2 separate regions of the Homo sapiens genome follow, and region 1 is linked to region 2. The links come from fine-mapping of genetic effects on gene expression. A gene starts in region 2. The other region holds a variant in brackets. All regions are shown on one strand. Distances are from middle to middle.

Region 1 (8,000 bases), 31 kb before region 2:
AAGGGGGCAGGGAGGGAAGGGGGCAAGGGTTCAGAAACTTCCTACTGGGTACTATGTTCACTATTTGGGTGATGGGTTCAAGAGAAGCTCAAATCTCAGCATCATGCAATATACCCACGTAACAAAATGGTGTATGTACCCCTTGAATCTAAAATTAAATAAAACCAACATGCTAAACAATATGATTTCAAAAGACCAGAATACAAATGTTTTCCTGTAAATTTAAATTCTGTAGTTCATGTTCCAATTTTAGAACATATTATAACTTCATTTTTTAAAAATCCAGTAAAAGAGGGTAAGATTAATCATGTACTTTACAAATGAACACAGATGGTCCTCAACTTACAATGGAGTTACATCCAACACGCCCACTGTAAGTTGAAAATATCATGAGTTGAAAATGCATTTAACACCCTGATAAACCCATTGTAGGGAATTGTCTGTCCATTATTAATTGTTTTTCTGCTAAGTATTATACTGATGAAGAGCTCTATGGCAGATATGGATTAAAAATACGCAAGCAATTTAAAAACTAAAAGTTTCAGATGCCCCAAATCAGTAGGTAGAGAAAAGAAAAGGCAAAGCTCAATCACCTGACTGTTCACAAGCCGCCTGGTCAGCTTTCCTCCAGATTCCTTCACGATGCGGTCAAGCTGCTCCTGCTCTCTCTCTAAATTATTGCTTTTAAACTTATCTTCAAGCATATCTTTGTCTTTCCTGAAAATATACATTAATACTAAGTAAAAAAAAAACAAAGATAAGTAAGATGAAAACATTCAAATGAATTCTAAATATGAATACAACTAAAGTGGAGACATTTGTACTACAGTCACTCATTGAAACTTACTTCCTTGATGACCTGTTAAGGGTCTCTAATTTAAGAACAGAAACAGTAAGGCACACCTAACATGTTATTTCCCTACCTTTTTCTGTCCAGTGTTACTTGTGTTAAACGTTTTTCTGGGAACTTACAAAAAAATTAGTTCTACCTCAAACATTACTTTGAAGGGAGAACAATATACCATTGTTCTTTTAAAGTTTGATTTTTAAAATTTAAAACAAGCACTTAAGTGTGTAAATCTTAGAACAAAGAAAAACTTGTCACTAGTTTACTTTCTTTGCATTATGACAGCAAAAATCCCAAACTGCTAACTACAACCCTCCCCAAAGTTGGCAGTGAGGTGCTGGGCGGTCAGGGCTGGCTCCCAGTAGTGTGAACGGGCAGATGCGGCTGCCGTCAGCTGCACAGGTGGCTGCCTAGGTGGAACAGTGGTTCAGCGTTGCTCCCACCAGCTGACATTGGGTGGAAAACATGGGCACGCTGCAGTGACAGCCCATCTGCTTAAGACGCAGCAGTGCCTGTGCTCCCACTGAACTCCTTGCTCCTTTATGGAAGGAGGTAATGACTATGCATTTTTTCTTAAACAAACAGTTCTATTTAAATAAACTCACTGACCATATCAGTCCCAAAAGACACTTTATAGGTTTTAAAACTACTTCAATAAGAATACACATTAGAACTGCTTTCTGAACTGTGTTTGGACAATCCCATATAGTGCTTCATATGAGAAGAGGGGTATCACACCATCAAAATGGACTTTCATGCCAAAACACCACCACCACCGACACACTAGCACTTGGTCTTCCCAAGTCAGGCCCCGAATAAGTATTTTTCCCCCTTACTAGCTTGAAGAAGACAGTTTGACCTTAACATCCCAAAGATCTTTTACTTTTTATTTTCTTTGCTGGGACTCTTGAAGGCGTGTGCTTCGGCATCTCCAGAGTCCTCTCTCTCTCTCTGCCAGCAGCCTCCGTCCTCCCCACTCTGTGAGGTGTCTGTTCCATCTTTCTGCTTTCGAGTTTTCTGCAAGTCAGCCATGAAGTCTATGCTCTGCTTCAGGCTCTGAATTCTTTCCTAAACATATTCGAAAATATTCTTATTATATGTTTGTCATTAACTTTTAAAGTAATGCATTTTTTTCCCCACAGGAGTTTATACTTATCCTGTCATTAACCAGGGAAGAAAAACAATTAAATGTAATCATATACCAAGAGAGTATTGTATTTGGAAACCATGATAATGCCTACACCTTCAATTCTTAAAATTTAATTTCCAACTTCATAGAAAGCTTTACAACTTTATTGCCCTATCAGAAATTTAACAGAGGAGAAAGTATGAATTAAGACTAAGTATTCTTTGAAGTACTGAATTGGAAGACTAAAATTTAGTTTAATGGTGTGTTAACATTTTGTGTTTAACAGACAGGCTTATCTTTTGACAGTTAAGAACTGTTAGGTGTATCAAAGCCTAGGGCATGTGAGCGTGTGAAGTCCCTCTCTGTTCTGGTAGCCCAGTGTGCTCACGGATGACGCTGGCATTTCACTCTGTGTGAAAACAACAAGCCTTGAGGAGAAGACAGTTGGTGGCACAGTTCCTTCCTCAGAGTGCAGAATGGTTTCGCTAACCAAAGAAGTCTTGTTTCTATTCTGTGAAACATGTGCTTAATTTTTCGCTGCAATGATGTGCTGTGAAATTTTCATTGTAGTTAAGGGCTTGAGGTTTCTCCGTAAATTTTAAGAAGGCATATTTGTTTCTACTGACTACCTTGCCTGTACTCTGAAAGTTATCACTGGGTAAAATAGAGTGCAACCTCCTTAGGGCTGCACAGCAACAGCAGGGAAGACTTCTGTGGAGTAACATAAACTAAGAACTAGAAAGAACCAGAGGCCATTCAAACAAGAACAACGCAGCCCAGGAACAACAAATGACTCACCTAAGGTCACTAAACCAGCAACTAAGACTAGGCTTGCTGTCACTCATGTTGGGCCTTTCCTCATCACACCATGCTCTATTAGTAGTGCAGATGGTGACATCCTCACCAACACAGTTCTTGCTGTTTTTTACTGGACTTTTAAAGTAATCTTAAAACCATTAAAGCGATCTATTTTATTGTGGACAAATAAAAATATGGGTAGAGGAGAAAATAAAAATCCTCCTAATGTCTCATCCAGAGAAGAACAGTGTTAACAAGTTTATTATTCCAGTACTTTTCCAACCATTACATAACCCAGCAAATTGGAATTATACTGAATATTTAGTAAAAAGCATTTTTTCAGTTAATAAATTATAAGCATTTCCTCTCCATATCAATAGATATTTAAAATATTTTAATAACTATTTAATCCCACGTCTACACCATGATTTAATTAATGGCCTATGATTGAACATTTAGATTTCCATGTTTCCACTATTATAAATAAAAGTACCATCAACATCATTATAAATAAATCTCTCTAGGAACCAGTATCTCTTTAGGATAAACTCTTAGAAAGGAAACAAAGTCAAAGGGAATGAATATTTTTGAGACTTTTGATAATTACTGCTTTCCAGAAAAGGTATACCAATTTACATACTAATTTACATTAGTGTTTGAAAGTTTCTCTGAATCCTTGACAAAATCAATAGTATCACTTAAAAAGCTAACCCATTAGAATCGCTTGAACCCGGGAGGCAGAGGTTGCAGTGAGCCGAGATTGCGCCACTGCACTCCAGCCTGGGTGACAGAGTGAGACTCCGTCTCAAAAAAACAAAACAAAAAACAAAAAACACAAACAACAACAAAAAGCAATCTTATTTGATTTTTAAAAACACGTTTTATTTTGCTACATTAAAAATATTAGTGAGTTTAATTATTTCTGTAAGTTCTCAGTAATAATTTTATTTCCACTCTAGAATTTTATAAAGCAGAACTTACATTAAGAATGCTTTGGGGTTTTAAAAAACACGACATGCACAAAATAAATTCAATTAGAGAAAGTTTCTAAACCTTGAAACAAGTCCCAGGAAAGAGTGAAGTTTAATTTTCCTTTGAAAGCAATGTCTTTTTCTTTTTTTGGTAATTAAAATGCCTCCAAGTCAGCACATTATTGATCTTCAATTTTACAATATTAAATGGCTAACAGGGCTGGTTCTTTGCTAATAATATAGCTAACATTTACTTAGTGCTTACCCATGTGCCAGACACAACTCCATGAGGTAAGTACTACTATTATCCCCACTTTACAGGACAGGAAAAAGGCTGACAAAGGTTACCTGGGCTAAAGTCACACAGCTTCCAAAGGGTAGAGCTAGGACTTGAACCTTGATTGGTCTGATTTCAAAGCCACTATGCTACAAATAGTATTGTTTGTACTACTTTGTTTGTACTACAATGCAGCATTTTACTCAAGTATTTATTTAGGAGATAAAAAGTTACTCTTCATCTGTTCATTCTTCTTTTTTTTTTTTTTTTTTTTTGAGACGGAGTTTCCCTCTTGTTGCCCAGGCTGGAGTGCAGTGGCGTGATCTTGGCTCACCACAACCTCCACCTCCCAGGTTCAAGCGATTCTCCTGCCTCAGCCTCCTGAGTAGCTGGAATTACAGGCATGCACCACCACGCCCAACTAATTTTGTATTTTTAGTAGAGACGGAGTTTTTCCATGTTGGTCATGCTGGTCTCAAACTCCTGACCTCAGATGATCCGCCCACCTCAGCCTCCCAAAGTGTTGGGATTACAGGCATGAGCCACTGT[T/G]CCTGGCCTCATCTGTTCATTCTTTATAAAAATAACACGTCTACTAATAGTTGTTATTTGAGTGTAACTGAAAAAATGATGAGTGACTACTCTACAATTTTTTCAATGAACATTCAAAAACAGTTATCTTTGAAAAGACACCATTCACGGAAGGGTGTGCTGGGCTCTCTTGGAGCACAAACTATTAGAAGAGTTAACTCAAAAGGTCTAAATTTAAACGTTTAAAAATCACTGTTGTGACGACCCCTCCCCTGTAGGGTGGAGAGAACAGTCAATAGGAAGCTAATAACACAGGATGGGTGGGGCTCCTCAACAGCAAAAGATCTGAAAAAAAGGAAGACAACAGAGAGAAAGAAAGAGGGAGAGAGGGAAGGGAAAGTGAAGAAAATTTTATTTTCTGTGCTTTCAACCATTCCACACGCCAGTAAAATTCAAGAGATAATGGAATCTTTTGCTTGTTGTATTAACTACATTACTTAAGGAAGTGGTAAATCAAAGGTCATTAAAAATTAGGCTCCCACCACCCAATTCAATGTACATATTTTGGAGTGACTAAAGGCTGCATTTGACAAATGCATTTTTACTTCAAATACATTAACAAGAAGCATTTCCATGTCTTTAAACCTGGAATATGGCATGGTTCTAGATTCTGAGAGTCTTCCTGCAAAGAATGGGTAAACATTTCATATTCCTCTTTCCTCTGCGAATGTTGTCAAAGATGGGTAACTGGCTTCCATTAGTTTCCCAAGTCTTTAGGAAAGGGTGGGAACCAAAGTTGTCTAAATATTAGGAGCGCAAGAATAATCAACAATCCAAACATGTTTTTCTTTCTCTAGTTAAGTGAATCCAAGAATCTCTCAGCCAAGCATACAGACACTCAGACATCTGCACACCAAGGCATTTCTTTAAATGTAAAACTGTAATACAGAAAAATGAATCACCATAAAAATCGAAAAACCACATGCAGATGCACGACTCATTTTTATCATCCTTTAACTCCCCTGAATGTGAGCTCAAGCTCTGGACTCTGATTCCTTTCTCCTTCTACCAGTGTCTTATACCCACTCATTTCTTCTTTGCAAAATCCCTGTCCTATCTTGTGGTTCTTTTTCATAGTATCCTCTCTACTCTACCTCTTATCTAGAATCAGAACAGTAATGCTAGAAATCATCTTGGAGACCACAGACTAAACCCTTCTTTAGGGATGAGAACACTGAGTCCCAGGGTAGTTAATGTCTTGCCCAAAGTCCACAAGTTAGTGGAAGAGAGCTAAAATGAAAACTCTCTTCTGCCTGCCTGCCATGGTATGGTATGGTGCCAGGATCACCCTTGATTCGTTCCCTAAAGTAGTCTCTTACATAGGTTTCTCCCACTCAGAGTGGTGAGAAAAACCTCAAAAGATATGGCTTATCTTGCGAGTTATTTTCTCCAGCGGATGCACAGTGATCATCTCAGCTTACCCTTCAAAGCCTTTTATCAACTGTCGTCCTGGGGACACTAGTAATTTTTTGCCACTGTGTATAATATCTCATGTTTACGCTCTTTCCTGCAGTTTGATGATGATGTGTCTGTGCCTACGCACACACTTCTCTGACCTCAAATGACTTACTATGCACTAATTCTTACCCTTTAAGGAAGAGTCTGCTGTTGTGGAGAGGTGGTTTTGAGACAGTTTCAAATTTTCTCTCATTTGTATATAGTCACATGTAGCTTAATGAAGGGACGCGTTCTGAGAAATGTACTGTTAGGCAATTTTGTTGTGTGACCATCAATGAGTACACTCACACAAACCTAGATGGTATAGCCTATCAGACACCTGGCTAAATGATATAGCCTACTGCTCCTAGGCTAGGAACCTATACAGCATGTTACCATACTGAATACTGCAGACAGCTGTAACACAATGCTAAGTATGTGTGCATTTAAATATAACAAAAGTACAGTAAAAATACAGTATTACAATCTTATGGAACCACCACTGTATATGCAGTCTGTATATACAGTATTATGCAGCGCATGACTGTATTTTCTTACTAGAAATTCTGTGCTTCTGACAGGACTGACCAACGTTAGATTCCACCCCTACAAATGCAAACAGAGAGCTTTCCTCTTCAGAGTTCTCACAATTCAGCCAGTCTTATCCTGGAATTCAGGCTGATGTTTCAAGCTGATGTTTTATGTCTTAAGAGATAATTACAAGTGAATGCCAATATTTATTTGTATTGATTCCAAGTAAGAATTTTCCTGTCTTAATTTTCTTCTCTTTATTAAAATTTTTTTCATTTAGTATTTTCTACTTTATTTAATATAATATAACCTGCTAATAAAATAAAATCAATACTGTATTGTATCTGTATTACTATGGCCAACAAACAGCGACACAGATTTTAATAACTATTATTTATGACAAAGAGTTTCCTTTACCTGGCTAAGAATTTTCATTCCTGAGTGCAACAGCTTCTTTGCAGCTTTATAATAAATGGTCTCTGGTTTATTGTAAATCATGGCATTAGTACACATTAGTTTGAAGTTATCCTGCAGAAAGAACATTAAGGGAGAAAATGCATTAATGCAAAACAAACTACCCTGCACCCCCAGGTTGAAAATATACAGGTCCTCTAAAAATTTAAAAAGCAACATCCCTTTCTTTATTTACTAAACAATACTAACAGTAATTTATTAAGTTTTAAGACTCACCAACAAAACAAATACTGCTAAATGTATTTAAATATGCTATATTATTTCCCAAATTCTTAAATATTTTATAGTACCTGTATATAAACTGTAGATCCCAGAATGAAACTTTTAAATGGGTTTCTTCAGTATAATCTTACTGCACATAAAAAAAATGTGAAGAAAATACTTCTATTTCATATGTAATGATTTTAGCTGAGTAGTTCATGTAAATAAAAAAAATATTACTCCTAGCTTTAAAACAAACATCTTAAATTTCCATTTAGGAATTGAACATTTTATTTCAGATCTTGACTGAAAACGGAGCAGTCCTAAATTATCGCAGTATTTCCTGCCAAATTCACATTAACTGAGCAAAAAATGTTAAAACATTTACACTACTTTTATGTGTTTGGATACTATCATAAACTAAACATAATTTGCAGAATGTTGCAAAACCATGCCAATGTGAAATAAACCATACAACCTCAAGGAGTTAAAACATGTAACTGGAGTAGCCAAATTACCAAAACTGTCTTTTTGGCTTAAATTTCCAAGTCCGCTATGTGCTGGAGAACTTGACCCCACTGCATGCTTTCATAGTTAAGTAATTTTTACATCTATAAATGTGCGATTCATTATGCCAAGGCCTTACTAAGTTGAAAGAAAAACCCAAGAAAAGAGAATCTGCCCCCTACAAATTTGTTTAAAAAACAAAAAAAATTCAAATTCCACTATTTAATAGTGATGACAGGT
Region 2 (8,000 bases):
CCCTACATAACACTAGCAAAAAGAATCTCTCCCTGCTTCCCTGGTCTAGCCTGGAAAAAAAGAATGACCCAAACAGTCCCTACAGAACCAGTGACACCCCAGAGGATCTGAAGTCTCTAGCCCTGAATGTGAAATAGAAACCATCCCCCTACCTGTCCTATTCTGAGAGGTGTGTCCAGAAGAGACTGTGGATATGAACCCATTTTAGGTTGCAATGACATCAAAATACAATGGGACTAATGATCTTTAGAGCCACAGTCAAGAAAGGATAGAGTGGCTGGAACACAGGGGGGAGAACACTTCTAAGAACCCATCCTGAAGATATTCTTACACAAGTGTACAAAGATGTGTGTACAATGAGGCTCACTGCAGTATTACATGTAAGATTTAAAAGTAATAATCATAAGTATGGTATATCCATATAACTAAATACTATGTAATCGATATAAAGATAACGAATAAAACAAGAAACGAAGAATATTAATGTATCAATGGGATTATGGTGGTAACTGCCAGAACAAAAACCAGAGTGGTTCAAAGTGGTTACCTCAACTTTTGTTAAACAAGACGATGGCCGGAACAAAGAGCACGTAAGAGACAAAGGTTGATAAGCCACGTCAACACACTTGGGAGACGGAAGGCAAATGGGGTGATTTGCAGAACAGAGAAAGCAAGATACTCCCGTATGCAGAGAGGTGGACACCTTTGAAAAAAGCCTAAATTCCAGAACCCTGGAAAAGCTCAGAACTGGAGGAGGCAGGGAACCTGAGAGTCTCCAAATCTCGAGACGAGCCAAAATAAGGAGAAATGCCAGACTCAGAAAACTGGGTGGTAAGACCTTCAGCCCCTGCCCCATAGTTGGCTCCAGAAACACGGATAAAACTGGCAAAATCCATCTCCTAGGAGAGGAGGATTTTTCTCTGGAGAAACTAAAAATCCCAGAGAAAACATCTGTAAGGTACAGACATTGGGGCATTCTTCACCAAAATGACTGAGTCCCTGTTAGTCACTCTACAATAAAGTCCATCAACTGACAAACTCTGTCTAGGTACAAAGCATTTACTCAGCTTTGTACAAACTGCAAAAGCTCAACAGACAACTAAAGGATGCTTTCAACAGAAAACAGAGACAGACAAATAAATGGAAGAATTTGGGAGAGAGAGACAGGGCAGGGAGCAAAAGAAAACTTAGGAGAAAAAAACAGGAAAAAACTTCGATTAATATCCTCAGAGAAAGAAAAGAATATACTGCATCTAAAACCAAGAACAGGGTGCTAATTCAAAAAGGACAGTTAGAGAACAAGAAAAAATTCTTGGAAATTCAAGGTATAAGATCTGAAATAAATCTGGAAAAGTCAGAAATTTTAGGGATGTTCCCTGAAGGAAGAACCCTCCCCCACCCCACACACACCCAGAAAAAATATGAGAAAAACATAAGAAAATTAGAGGATCAGTTCAGGAGTCTAATATCTAAAGGGCAGGAGTTCCAGAAACCAAGAAAAGAAAAAATGGAGGGAAAGAAATGAACACAGGAATACTTCAAGCACACAGCTCTGAACTGAAGGCACAAGTATTCATTGTGAAATGTCAGAACACTGAAGATAAGGGGGGAAGATCCTAAAAATTTCAAGTTAGCAAATACTGGTCATATGCAAAGGACTAAGAATCAGAATGGCAACAGACTTCTCAACAGCAAATTTAGAAGCCAGAAAACAACAAAGCAATGCCTTCAAAAGTCTGAAAGAAAATAATTTTCAATCTAAACAAGTCAAACCATCAACCTGTATGAGGGCAGAATACAGATTTTCAAACATGTTAGAACTTATAAAATCTACCCCGTGTATGCTTTCTTAGGACGTTCCTAGAGTTAAGAGTCCACCAGAACAAGGGAATGAATCAAGAAAGAGGAAGGCATGAGATCCAGGAAGCAGGTGAAGGAGAGTCCCAGGAGGCCTTGACAGCAACTAATTCAGCCTCCAGGAGACAGAAAGCTGTAAGATAAATGTCTCCAGAGGAAAATAAAAAAGGAAGTAAAGAACTCAAATGAGTTTCATAAATCTTAGAGTTTGGGAAGAATTATTAAGCAATAACCAAACAAATGAAAGCAATGATCTAACTAGTTAAGATCAGATCTATATTTGCATACTATACTTGTCTACAATCACTTTAATATTGATTTAACCAATAATTGTGATGTACCTATACCTTGAGCAAGGGAAACTGAATTCTCATCTTCCATAACATGATGTCAGTAGAAGATATAAACTGCTAAATCAGTAAATAGCAATATAAACCTTTATTTTGAAATAGAAATAAGTAGGCAAGGAAAAATACCTAAAAAGTGTCCAGAGTGGAGCAGCAGCCTGCTTTGTGTCAAAAAGCTGTGTAGTACTCTTGACTTTTAAAAATCATCTTCACGAATTACTTTACTACTATTAATTAAAAAAAACAACTGGTTACCTCTGAAGAGGGAGTCTATGTGAAGGATTGGGGTGAGGAAAACTTTTTCCATTTTGTGTACTTTTGCACCACATGAACTACTTTTAAAAAATCAAATGCATATATGGGTTTTATAATTTAAGGAAGAAAACAAAACATTACTCCTACCTAGCCAAAGGTAATAAAAACTGGGACAAAAGGGAAGGAATAGACTTAAGAAATCCCCAAAATAAGATCTCTAAGACTTGGTGACTTAGCAATGTGTTCAATCACATGGAAGAGAAAGCTCCTCTTGTATATATAAACATAAGAAAAATTACATAACTAACCTATGAAAATTTACCTTCACAATAATTGATGTAATAAGTCGTTCAGTGGCAGGTTAAATTTGGAAAGTTAATAACAGTAATAACAATGTTATTATTATTAGAGACAGAGTCTCGTATTATTGCCCAGGCTGGAGTGCAGTGGTATGATCATACCTCACTGTACCTCAAACTCCTGGGCTCAAGGGATCCTCCCACCTCAGCCTCCTGAATAGCTGGGACACAGGTGCACACCACCAGGCTCTGGAAATTTTTGTAGTTTATTTTGCAGAGGCAGGGCCTTGCTATGTTGCCCAGGCTGGTCTCGAACTTCCAGCCTCAAGCAATCCTCCCACCTCGGCATTCCAAAGTGTTGGGATTACAAGTGTGGGCTACTGGGCCCAGCCATTAATTATTATTTTGCCCAGCTTTCAAACCAAGATGGTAGCTACTCATTCTTTTCTGTTAAATGCAAATGGTTAAGAATATCAATCTCCATTACAGGTTTCTGACCAAATTTTCTCAACACACTACAACACTGTTTTAAAAGATTTAAAGTTGCTCATTACAGATTTGGCATTATAATATTTATTTCAGAACAAACTTTAAACCCCAGTAGATCCCACTCGCTTCTGAAATGACTATTTTTGACAATCCTTGAACACTGAGGCTTTCTTGAGCATGACTTTTTACCCTGCCTAGATGGAAAAACCATTCTTTGAAGCAGCTCCTCAAAATTTGGACTTAGCTGCTTCCTCACCTGATGTGCGAGTACAATTGCCTAAGAGTATAATCCAAAAACGACTTGCTGAAACTCATAGATGATTCATGTCTCTATTCTGTCCTGCTCCTCCTCAAACGAGCCAGATCTTAGAGGCGTTTGTTTTCCCCAGATACAAAGAAAATAAAATGAGGTTGGCACCTGGAAGAGGCAGTGCCGTCCGCAAAGCCAAAGCAATGTAACCACTTGTACCTTAACTCTTCTCCGTTTTCTCCCCTTTTCTTCCCCTGGAATCTGCTTCTCTCCTTTCTTTCTCTTTTTCCGCTTTCTGTCCTTGTGTTTGTCATGATCGTTTTTGTCTTCGAAGAGGCTGGAGTCGTGCCCCGAGCTGCCCGTGGAGAGTTCGGTGACTTCGTTCCCTCCTACTTTGAGGACCAGCTTCAAGGGCTTCTCTACATACTCTTAAAAAAAGAAAAGAAAAGAAAGGAAAGCGCGTCGATTAAAATCGGGGCTCTCCAGGGAGTGCTAAGGATGCAGAGCGCCAAGGCGCAGCAAGCCCGAGGCGGCTTTGGGCGCTCCGCGAAGCACCTGTTGAATGACGGACCCCGGCCCGGGGGTGCGGCGGCGCCGCCCGCCCCGAACGCTCCCAGGCCTCCCGGGCCCGCCTCACGTCTCCCCACCAGAGACCCACCGGACCAGGGGGACCCGGGTTCGAATGCCGCGGCCGCACGGGGGGCAGCGCGGCCTCCGGCAGGACGCGCCCCCTTCGCCGGCCTGGGCCTGCCGTGGGAAGGAAGGGCCCCGGGCCGCCCCGGAGCCACTGGGAAAGAGCGGAAGCCCGGCAGAGCCGCCGAGGGCCCGCCGCCCGCACCCCGGCCCCCTCCTCACCCTCGTAGAGGTGTTTGTCCGACTTGTGCTTCTTGTGCTTCTTGCCCATGTCCGACCGGGCCCCGGTGCCCGCCCCCCGCGCCAGGCCCAGGCCGTGCGGCGCCGCTTCCGGTCCGGGCCAGGCGAGCGGAGGGCGGGAGCGGGGCCCGCGAGACCCCGCGCCGCGAGGCAGGGGGGCGGCGCGCGCCGGGCGGCGCGATGCCCCTCTCGAGAAGACGGCGCGCGAGACCCGGCCGGAGCCCGAGAGCGGCGGCGGGGGGGGCGCGCGGCCGGCGCAGAGGCGGGAAAGAAGGCCCGCCGCGCGCACAGGGTGCCGGCGGCTGCGGGTGGCGGCCCCTGGCGACCGGAGGTGGTGCTGCAGCTCGCGGGCCGGGGGCGGGGCCGAGGGCGGGGCCGGGGCGGGATCCACCGCTCAGACTCTCGTCTTTCTTCCTTCCTCCCTTTCCCCTCAATTTGTCTGTCTTGTCTCTGTCTCTGTGTGTCTCTCCCTCCGTCTCCACTTCCCTCCCTTCTTTTTACTCCCTCCCTCTCTTTCTTTCTCTTTCCCTTCTTCCCTTCCTTCCTCCTTCCTTCCTTTCTTTCTTCCCTCCTTACTGCCTCCCTTCAAGCCTTCCTTCTCTCTTTTCTTCCTCCCTCATCACCCTTCCTTCTCCTCTTCCCGTCTCCTTCCCTCTTTTTTTCTTTTCTTTTTTTCCCCTTCCTCCTTCCCCCACTCTTCCTTTCTTTCCACTTTCCCTTGCTTCTGTTTCTTCCCTTTTACGATATTGACTGAACCCCATACTGGGTGCCAGACCCAGCAAACTCAGCACATTGGTGACTGAAGATTCTAATCTTAAAAAAAACTTATGTGCTGATAGGTGAAGGTTACCAGACGTTTTGACTGTCTTTACTTCTAGCTGTATGGTGCTTTGTCTGTTTTCAGATAAGCTCGTAATTATAGTCTCCTCTTAAGAAAGGATCTGTTATCAGTCATTTATACTTTAGTAACAATTTAGACCCATGAATCACCTCTCCCAGGAAGATTTGTAGCTTTACCTTGAACTTCAGTGGTGAAATTATAGGCTTATATTTTAGGACCCTATTGTTGGCAACTAATAGAAACCAATTTGAATTATTTCAAGTAAATAAAAAGGGATTTATTGGTTTACATGTCTAGAAAGGGCAAGAATAAAGCTTGCCAGAGGGAAGACAGGAACCAAGGATGTAATGCTGTTGACTGGCATGCCAGCTCGCTCTCTCTCTTGTCTCTCTGTATATCGGTCTCCATCTCCCCCCTTCTTTCCTATATGGCTGGAAACATGGCCACCATCTGCTTCTGAGGCCTCTTCTTTATAGTGTCCTGACCAACTGGGAAAAAGATCTCTTCCTGTCAGCTTCACCTGGAAAACAGTCCCAGGGAAGGACTCTGATTGGCTTGGCTTGTGTCACATGTTTTATGGGACAGGGGATGGGAGATTGATTCGGCCTGGATGCCAAATCTACCCCCTCACCCCCTTGGCCAAGAGAAGTGGAGTCTGTGATTGGCAGCTCCTGCCAGACTTCTATGGTTAGCCAGGGAAGATGAGGTTCTTCTAATGAAGAGAGTTGCTTTTTCATGAAAGCTAAAAGTGTGTGTCTATTATTTCCCTGTAACAAGCCTCTCTGGTGTCCGTGAGGCAGAGATCAGGGTGTGGGAAGAGGGGTTGTGTTGGGGAAGAGACCTTCTGCTGCTCTGAAATCAAGCCAGCTAGGCCCCCTAGGCCCCCTAAGCATAGGGCAAAGCTTGGTTTCAGCTTTTCATCCACTGTCTGTAACTTATTTTGCTTTAAGAACCACTATGCCAACTCCCACTGTGGGTCTGGCCTCTATTGTGGCATTGCCTTGCTCCAGGCTCAACCTGTGGGTTTACCTGTCTGCTCCTCATTACCCTGGGTACCTCCTTGGTACTTACAGTGCCTAGCACAGTGACTACTACTGTCCAAATGCCCCTCAGAGGAAAAAGGTCTGGTGAACTCATCCATACTATCAAGTTAGTAATTTCCCTACCCTCTCAAGAGTGATTCTACATAGGTCACAAAGTGGTCACATCAATGGAAAGTGAATAAGAGTACGTAGCAGAAAACACCTCCCAGAAAAATGTTCCTGGAAGTGGAAGCCCAAATTCATCTAGTTTTAAATTCTCAGCACTAATACCATGCCTGGCACATAGAAGGCACCAGAAAATGCTAGTTGAGCTGCACGGTCCTGGTTCGGGCAGACTCCCCTGAGAGATTTCTGCCTGCTGCCATTCATGACCTCCCAGTGAGTGTAGAATGGCCTGGAGACTGGCTTCAGAGCAATAGAATATGGCAAAGATGATGGACGTCACTCCTGTGTTGAGGATACATAAGACTTCAGTCTTACTTGCTGACCGTCTCTCTTGCCTTCTTGGCTTGCATGTTTTGATGAAGTAAGCTGCCATGCTGGAGAAGCCCATGTGACAAAGACCTGAGGCTGGGCCCCAGTTGACATCCGGCTACAACTGAGGCTATCAGTCCAACAGCCTTGAAGGATTGAATCCTGCCAGCAACTGTGTGAGCTTCAAAGTGGATCCTTCCTCAGTGGAACATTCAGATGAGACCTCAGCCCTGGCTGACATCCTGATCACAGCCCTGTGAGAGTCCCAGAAGCAGAGGCCCCAGTTAAGCTGTGCCCAGACTTCTCCCCCAACAGCCCAACAGCTCTTGAGTGAGTGAGACAGAGCTGACTTGAGTCCTGGGGTCACAGATGCTTACAGGGTCTGTGACTTTGGCATGTCCTGAGAGGGCTGCCTACCTCTGAACCTTGGAACCAGGGTGAGGTCATTGGGTGTGCTGCTGCAACAGGGTGGTTGTAAGGATCAAAGAAGATAATGTGGTCAGAGTGCCGAGAGTAATGCCTGATATGGTAGATAGTAAATGGTCAATAAATATCAGCTGCTAATACTAACTTTTAAATATTTGTGAATGTCACTTTCCTGCTCAAAACCATCTTGTGGCTCCCTGTCTCACTCGAAGTCAAAGCCAAATCTGCACCTTGGCTTTCAGGGCCGGATCTGGCCCTCATTCTCTTTCCAGCCCCATCCCCCTGCCCCCTCCTCCCTCCTGCCCCAAGCCCCTGCTTCTCTTCCCTGTGTTCAGAACACTCTCCCCTGAGCTCCTGGAGTGGCTCCTGCCCTCACATCACCTTGGTCTCCCCTGTGACCACCTCAGAGAAGCTTCTGGACCACCAACCCACACACCCCTTCCCCTCTTCCCTCAGCCTGTGCAATGCCTTGTTTCTCTCCATTGCACCTACAGCCTCCAAAATTATGTTGAATATCTCTTCCCTATCTGTGTGCGTGTCCACCATCTGTCCACTGGCTTCCCAGGTCCCCAAGGTTAGGGACTAGGTCTGTCTCACTCCTGGCTGTGTGCCCCGCACTTAGCACAGAGCTGGGCTCAGCACAGGCCCTGGAGAAATATTTGTTGGACAAATGAATACATCATAATTACTGTGTTGTGATAATAATTCTCTTCCTCCTTCCTCCCCTTTCTGGTGGAGACACGAGGTGACTGGAGCCCTCCGGGAGAGTCTGTGGAGGAGAAAGCCTGGCCACTGGGGGGTGTGGCATGCCCAGGAAATCTCTGCGCAGCTCAGCTTGGAGGTGGC

The links. PIP is the estimated chance that this variant, and not a neighbour inherited with it, causes the effect.
Region 1: its variant is fine-mapped to the expression of BRD7 in whole blood (TOPMed, PIP above 0.99). The same link has a PIP of 0.9 or more in blood mononuclear cells.

What each region holds. Positions count from the first base shown.
Region 1 is chr16:50,332,981-50,340,980 of GRCh38, forward strand. It overlaps BRD7 (bromodomain containing 7), which reads right to left. Exons shown (of 17, transcript NM_013263.5): 6 at 6,996-7,106; 7 at 1,731-1,915; 8 at 594-717. Among named protein-coding and RNA genes, the nearest start is that of BRD7, 32 kb to the right of the region's middle. RefSeq lists an enhancer at 2,626-2,705. The variant T/G (reference allele first, on the strand shown) is at 4,572.
Region 2 is chr16:50,364,374-50,372,373 of GRCh38, forward strand. It overlaps BRD7 (bromodomain containing 7), which reads right to left and starts at 4,615. Exons shown (of 17, transcript NM_013263.5): 1 at 4,353-4,615; 2 at 3,717-3,925. The coding sequence starts at 4,401. RefSeq lists silencers at 4,004-4,513, 4,544-4,793.